Linked DNA regions of Homo sapiens: region 1 is linked to region 2. Evidence: fine-mapped expression QTL. A gene starts in region 2. The other region holds a variant in brackets. All regions are shown on one strand. Distances are between the middles of the regions. Region 1 overlaps CAPN7 (calpain 7). Region 2 holds the start of SH3BP5-AS1 (SH3BP5 antisense RNA 1).

What was found. PIP is the estimated chance that this variant, and not a neighbour inherited with it, causes the effect. A credible set is the group of variants that fine-mapping cannot tell apart.
Region 1: its variant is the best candidate, but not a certain one, in a credible set for the expression of SH3BP5-AS1 in blood mononuclear cells (TOPMed, PIP 0.57).

Annotation. Positions count from the first base shown.
Region 1 is chr3:15,220,413-15,225,412 of GRCh38, forward strand. It overlaps CAPN7 (calpain 7), which reads left to right. Exons shown (of 21, transcript NM_014296.3): 5 at 369-569; 6 at 3,063-3,149. Among named protein-coding and RNA genes, the nearest start is that of CAPN7, 17 kb to the left of the region's middle. The variant G/A (reference allele first, on the strand shown) is at 3,052.
Region 2 is chr3:15,251,364-15,256,456 of GRCh38, forward strand. It overlaps SH3BP5-AS1 (SH3BP5 antisense RNA 1), which reads left to right and starts at 2,821. Exons shown (of 3, transcript NR_046084.1): 1 at 2,821-5,093. CAPN7 (calpain 7) reads left to right here. Exons shown (of 21, transcript NM_014296.3): 21 at 1-1,553. It overlaps SH3BP5 (SH3 domain binding protein 5), which reads right to left. Exons shown (of 9, transcript NM_004844.5): 9 at 2,990-4,940. The coding sequence ends at 4,723.

The DNA of each region.
Region 1 (5,000 bases), 31 kb before region 2:
CATTTGCATGTAATACTTTCATCCTAGTATCTGTTATTTTTGATGCAGTTGTCTGTCTTTCCCTACAAAACTATGAGTACCTTAAGGGTAGGGATTGTTTTATACGTTCTTTTATACCACTTACCTTACCTTGTATGGTGTCTGATTATGTAAGTGCTTAATTAATGTTGTCAATAGAATATTGTTTGTAAAAGATGCTTATCTTTGGAAGTAGCTGAAGTAGTGAAATGTTGATTAGTATGTAAGAATTTTATATACTAATTTTACATTAGGGATGCTTGACTGGTTCTTCAAGTAAATTTTGTTTCCTGAAAAGCTTAAATGTGAGTAGAAAAACTAGAACAGTTGTTTGTTCCTCTCTGTTATAGAGCAGAAGCGCTGAGTGAGCCTTTGACCAAGCCAGTTGGCAAAATCAGTTCAACAAGTGTTAAGCCAAAGCCACCTCCAGTGAGAGCACATTTTCCACTGGGCGCTAATCCCTTCCTTGAAAGACCTCAGTCATTTATAAGTCCTCAGTCATGTGATGCACAAGGACAGAGATACACAGCAGAAGAAATAGAAGTACTCAGGTAAATAAGTTTACAATTAATTGTAATGAAGAATTTTGTTAACATGAATGCAGAATTTTATTTTCATTAGGTTTGCTGAATTGTATTCAGATTTCTCCTATAGTGTATTGTGCTGTTATTATGTAATTATATCATCATGTAGTCACAACTTGAAATAGTTAAAATTTTAGTTCTGATATATTTTATTTTATTTTATTATTTTCATTTGTATTTTTTGAGACAGAGTGTCACTCTGTTGTTCAGGCTGGAGTGCAGTGGTGTGATCTTGGCTCACTGCAACCTCTGCCTCCTGGGCTCAAGCGATTTTCCTGCCTCAGCCTCCCAAGTAGCTGGGACTACAGGTGTGTGCCACCACATCTGACTAATTTTTTTTTTTTTTTTTTTTTTTTTTAGTAGAGACAGGGTTTCATAATGTTGGCCAGGCTGGTCTCGAGCTCCTGACCTCAGGTGATTCGCCCACCTCGGCCTCCCAAAGTATTGGGATTACAGGCATGAGCCACTGTGCCCGGCTTTAGTTCCAGTATATTTTAATATTAGCGTTTTTGCTAGACATAATACACTTTGCTGAAAATCCTAGCATTCTGTGAAACTGAGCCACTAAAGGTTAAGGAGCAAAATGAGCTGTAGCAGACCACTCTTAATCTATGCAACTTTGTAACCAGAGCCCTAATGGGAGAAAAAATGTTACTTTGAAATAGGAGTGTAGGTGGTGTGCTGGCAGCTCACCCCTGCAATCCCAGCATTTTGGGAGGCAGAGGGGGGCAGATCACTTGAGCTCAGGAGTTTGAGACCAGCCTGGGCAACATGCCAAAACCCCATCTCTACTACAAATACAAAAAATAGCTGGGTATGATGATGTGCACTGTAATCCCAGCTACTTGGGAGGATCACTTGAGCCCAGGAGGTGGAGGTTGCAAAGCCGAGATCACGCCACTGCTCTCCAGCTTGGGCAACAGAGGGAGATCCCGTCTCAAAAAAAAAAATATGTGTGTATACACGTGTATATACATACGTATACATATACGTATATAGTATACGTATACGTATATATATATGTAAAGTTTTTCTTTGAAAGGTTTTACATGCATCAAAAAAAAAAAAAAAGAATATATGACAGAAACCTCATTGCAAAGCCTAAGCTATATACCATATGGCTCTTTACAGAAAACATTTGCCGACCCCCTGTCTAGCGGGGGTTATAGCGTGTCTGAAAGCAGTCTCAGAGGATATTAAAAATGTAAAACACGGCTACTCTGGGCACACTGCCTATGGAGTAGCCCTGTTCCACAAGGAGCTGTACCAAAAAAAAATGAAATGTGAAACACAATAATGTGGAAATTCTTGATTGCCCTCTGAACCAGTGTAGCTAGGATAAGTCCCTGAGCCAGACAGGGTGGCTTTTTTAAAGTTGAGCACTGCAGAAAGTTCAGTCTGCTTAGAGCTGTGTAAGTCATGTAGGTGTTCATCTTTTTATTTTCTAAAATTGAGCTGAAAGGGCTTCTGCCTAGGTAGCAGCCATCTGAGAGCATTTTTCTTTCCTTTCCTGCTGAAGATTGTAATTGTACTCCTGCTAATCTGGCTCCCTTTGTCTAGGAAAAATTGCATGTGCACCAACACAGCACAATACAGGACAAAGAAGGGTAGTTTTGAAGCTAAAAGACTAATAACAGTCCAACACTTTTCCATATGCTACCTTCACATGTTTGAAATTCTGTACTACACCAGAACAACTCTATATTCCACCTAACAAAATGCAGCTATCCTTCATGCGAGTGAAAAGTTTTCATTATCTTTCCAAAATAAGGCTGTACATAGTCCCAACAATCATTTCATCTATTCCTGACTATATTAAGTAGTCCTCAGATTTCCAGGCTATTGTTACCTAAAGACTAAATTCTGAAGTTACTCTGCAACATCTCATAAATAGAATAAGGGAGAGAAACAGATACAAGAAGGAAATAGTTAATATAGATAAATAAGCATATACACAAAACAAGGAGAATGCAAAGCTACTACAAACCTTATTTCTTTAATTTGTCAGTAGACCATAGCTGATATCTATGACACTTCCTTCTTCCACTACCCATTTCATGTCCTCATAACCAGAAAACGTGAAGAGCATGTATTTCAGAATTGTTAATGTGTTTTTTTAATTCCAAAATAACTTAAGCAATTGATTTCTCCCTTTAGGCTTAGCATAGAATTGGTTTTGTGTCTTGGTGTCAAGGACACTTTCATTACCTCTTGAATAGTCTTGTCTTCTTGTGGGTGTTAGCCTTTAAAGAATATTCTTATTGGTTTGAATTGATTCAGTTATTTTCTGATTTTCAATTATTTTATGAAAATATTGTCCAAAGATATATCAACAACATGAGGTTGTCAGTTTAATTTTAATACAGTATCATACCTTGTCATTTAAATTTTAAAGAGTTGAAATAAGATTGGCAATTAAGGTAAACTTGAACATTTAGGTTTTTTTCTC[G/A]TGTTTGATAGGACAACATCAAAAATAAATGGTATAGAATATGTTCCTTTCATGAATGTTGACCTGAGAGAACGTTTTGCCTATCCAATGCCTTTCTGGTAAGTAAGCACTGTTGCAATTTTTAACTCCAATATTTTAACTTTTCAGTACTCTGAAGTTCAATTTAATAGCCTTGAAATTAAAATTTGTAATAAAAAAATTTGTTGGAATAGAGGGGTGGCTGTGGGAAAGGGATAGGGCAACATAGCAAGAGCACTTTTGTTATTTGCCCAGTCATGAGGACATGAGGATCTCCTTTTGCCTAATATTATTTCTGTAGTGTCTAGCACAGTACCTGGTGTAAAGTAAGTACTCCGTAAATATTTGTCCAAGCAGTGATTGAATCACAACAGAAATTCTAACACACAGTAAAGAAACTGAATGGAAAAGGGGAATGGAATGATGTCATTGTTTACTAAGAAGACCAATTCAAGCAAGGACTATTTATGAGAGAATTAGTTAGCACAGCCTTCCAGGACAATGGCAGCTTATGTCAAGAGCTTTAAAAATATTGTTTGGTTCAGGAGTCCGAGCTTGTAGTCATCGTAAGGAAATCAACAGTCAAAGATGTACATAATAAGGACACTCATCAAAGCATCTGTTGCAGCAAAAAATTATTGAAACAAACTGGCAATATGGGAATGATTAAATAATAGTACATCTATACAGTCAAATATTATGCTACTCAAAATAAGTATTTAAAACTGTAGGAAAAAAAATGTTCCCATTACAGAAATCAAAAAGAAAATTATGATGTCCCAAATTTTTTTTTTTTTTCTTTTTTTTTGAGATAGGGTCTCACTCCCATTGCCTAGGCTGGAGTGCAATGATGTGATCATGACTCACTGCAGCCTTGACTTCTCAGGCTCAGGTGATTCTCCCACCTCAGCCTCTTGTATAGCTGGGACCGCAGGCATGCACCATCACGCCCAGCTAATTTTTGTATTTTTGGTAGAGACGAGATTTTACCATTTTGGCCAGGCTGGTCTTGCACTCCTGACTTCAAGTGATCCATCTGCCTCAGCCTCCCGAAGTGCTGGGATTACAGATGTGAGCCACTGTGCCTGACCCTTCTTTTTCTTTTCATGTATTTATAGATGCATAGAAAAAAAAAATGATGTGGAGAAATATACCCGAATATTTACAGTGGTTATGTCTAGGTAACAAAATTTTGTGATTTAACCTCTTTCAGTACTTTTTTATTTTTCAAAATTTCTCCAATGAGCATGTTATATTTATTATTAGAAAAAAAAAGCTGGATGCTTACTATATAGAATATGAAGGCTCTGTAAAGAACAAAAGGGCTGCTTTTTATTTTCTAGTGTTTTGCTGTTCTTTTGCCAAGGGTTAGGTATCACAAAGCCAGTTAACATATTTTTTTCACTCAGGTAGCTGTGTGATGCTAGTAACTGATTGGGACCAAAGGAATTTTTATATCTGAGAAACTTTATAGCATTAATGTTCAGGGAAAGATTCTAGAGCCAGACTTTCTGGTCTCAAACCTTGTGTAACACCGGGCAAGTTGTTAAATCTGTCTCAGTTTCTTGTCTGTAAAATGGGGATAATAATAGAAACTACCTCATAATGTTACTGTGAGTTAATAAAATGTAAAACCCTGAGAATGGTGCTGTTATATAGCAAGCACTATATAATAAAGGTTACCTGCTAGAAAAATCATCATTTTGTTAGTTACTAAGTTATATAACAATTTGGCTGTATATTCCAAATACTTTAACATTTTTTATACCTCTTTGACTAATGATTTTACTTCAGGAATCCAGTTGTAAGGAACTATTTAGAGATATACTCAAAAATTCGTACGAAAGCGATTTATCATTGTTGTTATAATTGTGAAAATGAATCAGTTATTCTGGTATTTTCTTGACAATATTCAAATAGAGATGTAAACT
Region 2 (5,093 bases):
AAATCTCTAAAAACGTGTTACAGTGGAATCTGGTGCTTGTCAGGGTGTTTGGTAAGAACTGTATATAGTCAGAATTACCTAAATCACCTAGAGGTACCGTTTACATGGTTTTGTGTATATAGAGTTGGCTTGCATTTTAGGGGCCATTTTGTATAAAAAGTGCATATGATTAAAATTAGACTCAGTCATCACTGTGAGATGCCTTTGCTAAGAGGATAAAGGAACTGAGACCAGATGAGAAAAAGAAAGGATATAGATTCCTTGAGTGGAATAGTGGGCTAGATTAATATACCGAAATATTTCCATTGTTTCCCTTTTTTGCAGAGCATGTGGAAGTTAAACCTGCTTGATTCTACTATACATCTTGGGCAACTAGTTACCAAATGAATTGTGCCACCATAACTGATTTTAATTTTGCATTATTTATGATTTTAAAATATTTGTTGCCCAGGTGTTATGAAAGAATAAAGCTTTTAAGTATAGACTACCTTAGCATGAAGATGCTCATGCCTAAGAATGAAAATTGTTGAGGTTATCTCCCATTCAATCATGTAGCAAGAACTTAAAGAAATTCACTACTGCAGTTTTTATTTTTAAAAAACAGTAATTGAGATATTGAAGACATTACAATTTAGTTTGTGTGGTCTTTTTTTAAATTGCTGTATCGTTCAGTCTCTTGTGGCAATAGCACTTTGAAGAAAATAGAGAATTTAATATATGGTGATTGGGATATGTAGCATTCAAAAAAAGTGAATTGCCAAGATACTGGTGTCATGTAAATTCCCACTTTACATAAAAACCCATCAGGACAGAATGATGCTCAATATTTTAAAATTCTAAAAATAGGGTGGGATTTTTCATTGTCTCTACTTTATAATTATCAAAACTTATTTTGTATTGCTACTACCTTAAATTGAAATAAAATGTTTATACTTACGGATATTGCATAGTTTAAGTTAGATTTATTGAAAGATTTCATCTGTCGTGTTTCATGTAAATGAGAACAGATTATTTGCATGAAAATATATACTTCAACAAAAATCTGTTCTTTAACAGAGTAGTGGTAGATTATTACACTAATGAGATTTCACTTTGGTAAATACTTCATGCTTTCAGTTTTAGCCTATTAATTTTAGGTGGACAAATTTAACAAGTTTTCTGTTACTTTTTAAAAAGAAAAAATCCAGAACATAAGAACTATATTATGAACACATGATTTGAACCTGTTGTGGTAAAGATCTTGTACAGGATGCAAACTAAAAACCTAATCCCTGCCATCAAATTTATTAGAAGAGACCTATATATGAACAACTTAAAGGCACTGATTTCTATAATAGAGCTCTAAAAACATGCCACCAGTGTATGAATAAGGGAAAGATTAATTTTGGCTGGACCAATATAAAAAATTGTATTTGAAGAATTGATACTTTAACTTGGACCTTGAAGGTAAAGCTTCAAAAGACAGGTTACTGACCATTGAGTGTTTACTATGTACCCAATGTGTATATTTTTCTTTTTAATCTTCCCAATAGCTGAATAAAGTATAGATACTATTATTTGTACTTCTTACAATTGAGGAAATAAGCCTAAGAGATTAAAAGATTTTGCCCAGGGTTCACAAGCCTTCTTCCCTGAGCCCTGATTGAGCTGCTGTGTGTGTCTAATGGCACCCACAGTCACGGCCGTCTAGTCGAGGGAGGGACAAGATCTAGACCCATTGTAGAGGGAGGAAAAACAATCCAGGCCTTTTGGAGGTTCTAAATAACAGACAGACCAGTTGAATTGTTAGAGAGGATGACTCAAGTTTCTAATTCAGCACATGGACAGATGCTCATAGCTTCAGTGAAAGGTAAGTTTTGACACATTAAATTGCCCAGAAAATCCAGATCTGGAATCAACGTGGTATAGTAAGTGAGATCACCCAAAAAGTCAAGAGTCACGTGAACTAAAGATGGTTAAGAACTGATTTGGGGGAAGTTTTTTAGAAAGTATTTCTAATTTAGAAAAAAATACATAGACTAACAGGAGATACAAGAAAACGAGGGTTGGGGGAGGATTAAGAAGCCCAGTGAACAGAATTCCCAGAAGAGTATAATTAAATGTCAGATGTGGTGGAGATAAAGAGGCCACAGTGACAGCAGTAGGGGCAGACTACGTAAAACTAGAAATTTGACTAGGTGATAGTGTGAGAAGGGAGCCCTGGTCAAAAGGTGGTCTGCATCCTTTTCTGGTGTAGGAGACAAGCAAGTGGTAGGCTGATGGGAAAGGGGGATTGAGGCAGGAAACAAGAGAAATTCTTAATGCCCATAAGGAATACTCTAGTGCTACTGACTGACTGCCTAGGCTTTGTCTTTTGTAAAGACAAGGGAAAGAAAGCCCCAGTGTTAGAAAACTCCTTCCCACTTTCATTCTCTGCGAGAAGTACCTAGAAATTTCTAGTTATTAGACTGTATAACTTGACTCTGCTGTAAAAACTTTATCCTAGCTTGGGCTATTTTCCAGATGGTGTTTCTTCTAGGAGGAAAAAGAATTGCCTCAATTGCAGGGAAGTTTTTGCTAATGGTAAGTCAAGCAAGTCTCAGTGTCTTTACTACAGGTAAAAGGGTGTAAGGAGATTTTATGAGAACTGAATGAACCCTGAAGGTCACTAGTCAAATTCAGGTATGCTGTTAAGTGTTCTTGCTTGAGACCCAAATTACAAGACTGGCCAATTTTTGTATTTTTGGTAAAGACTGGGTTTCACTATGTTGCCCAGGCTGGTCTCGAACTCCTGGGCTCAAGTGATCCACCAGCCTTGGCCTCCCAAAGTGCTGGGATTACAGGCATGAGCCCTTGGGCCCAGCCGGCTGTTTAATGTTCTTAAATAGCACAAGGGACTTCTATGAACTTTCCTAGATGAAATATTTATTAACTACTAGGTAAAACACTTGTTTGATACTGCAAAGGGTTATTTCTGAAACTTAAACCTCATGATTGGCCAACCAAGAACTTTTTCTCCACAGCATGCTTTAATAATGAAATGCGGATTAAGAGTCCAATATTATAAAACATTTCCACAAAAGAAAGAATCCATCTGATTCTCAACTCTGAATGCACATTTGAATTCCCTCGGGGAGCTTTTAAAAGTCTAATGCCCCAGTGTACCCCCCCCAGTTAATTAATTAAATAATTCTCTGGGGATGAGAACTGACTGACAGCAACACTTAAGCTTCGAGACTGCAGTGTGCAGCCGAGGCCCACTCCTCCAGCGTCACCACCTCGTCTTTATCTGCCACTGTGTCTCCTCATTGCCCACAGCTTTAGCAACAGCAAAAGTAGAATTCAAACCTTGGTAAACAAGGCTTAAATTATTACTGTTCATGACCTTAATTAATTGAAAATGATTACTGGTGACCACAGCACTCCATGCTCTTCCTTATGGAAAAAGGGTTGCCTAGAAGATTTAGGCAATACTGGGAGTTCTTATTTGAAGTCACAGAAAGGAGAAACTTTTCTCAAGCCGTTTTTATTACACTTAGTGTATTAAGACAAGTACAAAATAACCTTGTAATTAAGATACTGTATCAGTCAAAAAAGAAGTCACTATTGTATGAAGAGATTTACAAATGACTAAAATATACAGGCTGTGACAGAATTAACAGTTTGAAAGAGGGTTGCTTTTTTCTTTTAGAAATGCTAAATTTTCTTAACAAGACAAAAATACAGTGCTCTAAATATGCATTACCATGAAAACGTTAAAGAAAAGCAGTCTTAACACTTAACTACTATTAACAGCCTTTGCCAACACATGCCTGCCTACTCCCTTTCCTAACTTTAAAGAACTGTTTCCTCTAAGGAATACTAGTGCAGCATAACCCTTAAATAATTTCATTTATTTTTAAAGTTACAACCTACAGAGAAATTAACATCTTGTCAATCTAATAACAGTGGCAACCATTCTTCACATGCACTTCTCTTAGAATAAATCCCCTTGGCTGGCAGGATAAGGCTTATGCTGTAGAACCTTCTCCCCCACAGCCACAAATCCCCTTCTATAAGTCCCTCCTACCCTCATCCCCCCGCATCCCCACTGGCATTCACCTTTCCCACCCCAAAAAGTGCAGCTCATGGTAGCCTTCTAGAAAATGGTTTTAATGGGTATCCCAGCATACACGCTTTTTTAAAAGCCCCCTCTGAACACCAGAGGTGGTGAAAATGAATTGTGTTCTTGGATTTTTTTTTTTTTAAGCCTCCACTGGGTCAAAAATATGTGCTCTTAATACTTGAGTTTTTGCTTTGTGTGTGGGTTTTCTTTCTTTTTCATTTAGATATCGTGGGATAAAGTGGAGAGGACATCTCCATTTTCCCATACAAACTGAGGGTGAGAAGAGAAAGAGAAGCAAGCTGTTGCCCCCACTTTGGCCTGGCTTCCCAGCCATCTTCCCAGCTCTGGTTCTTTCATAGGAACTAGTTATTGCTTCCACAATGCCGTTATACGGAATGTTCCACAAAGGCTGTGAACCTAGTCACAGTCTACCCACAACAAGAACTCTGCTCTGAAAAACCAGCCCAAGAGCTCTTACCCAGAAGAACAATCTTTAGCCCTCAAGGTCACTGAAACTTCATTAGAGCAGTTTAGAGTAGACGTGTAAGATTTGGCATATATTAAATGATTATTGGCACAATGTTCTCCAGTTCCATGTATAAATGTTGATATGCACATCGGCCAGGGCCCAGGATGAATCAGCCAATCTGCACCATTTTTATGTCAGCAATAATTCCATCTCTTCCCTTTGAGCACTGTAGGGAGAGCTGCTTCATCCGGTTCTCCAAGGCCTGGCCCTCAGGGGAGGTGCTGCTTTGGCTCTTACTGCTGCCACCACTGCCACTGCTACTGCTGAGGCCCCGGTTGTTGTTGGCTTTGTCACTTGTTTTATTCTCTGCCCCTTCTGCCCTGTCTCCTATAGAAATACAAGGATTATCAAAAGTGAGTATTGACAATTCTGCCCTGTCTCCTATAGAAATACAAAGATTATCAAAAGTGAGTATTGACAATTCTAAGTCACTTGAGCTCAAACCAGTCAGCTAACTCAGCCCTGTAGAAGTCCCACTGT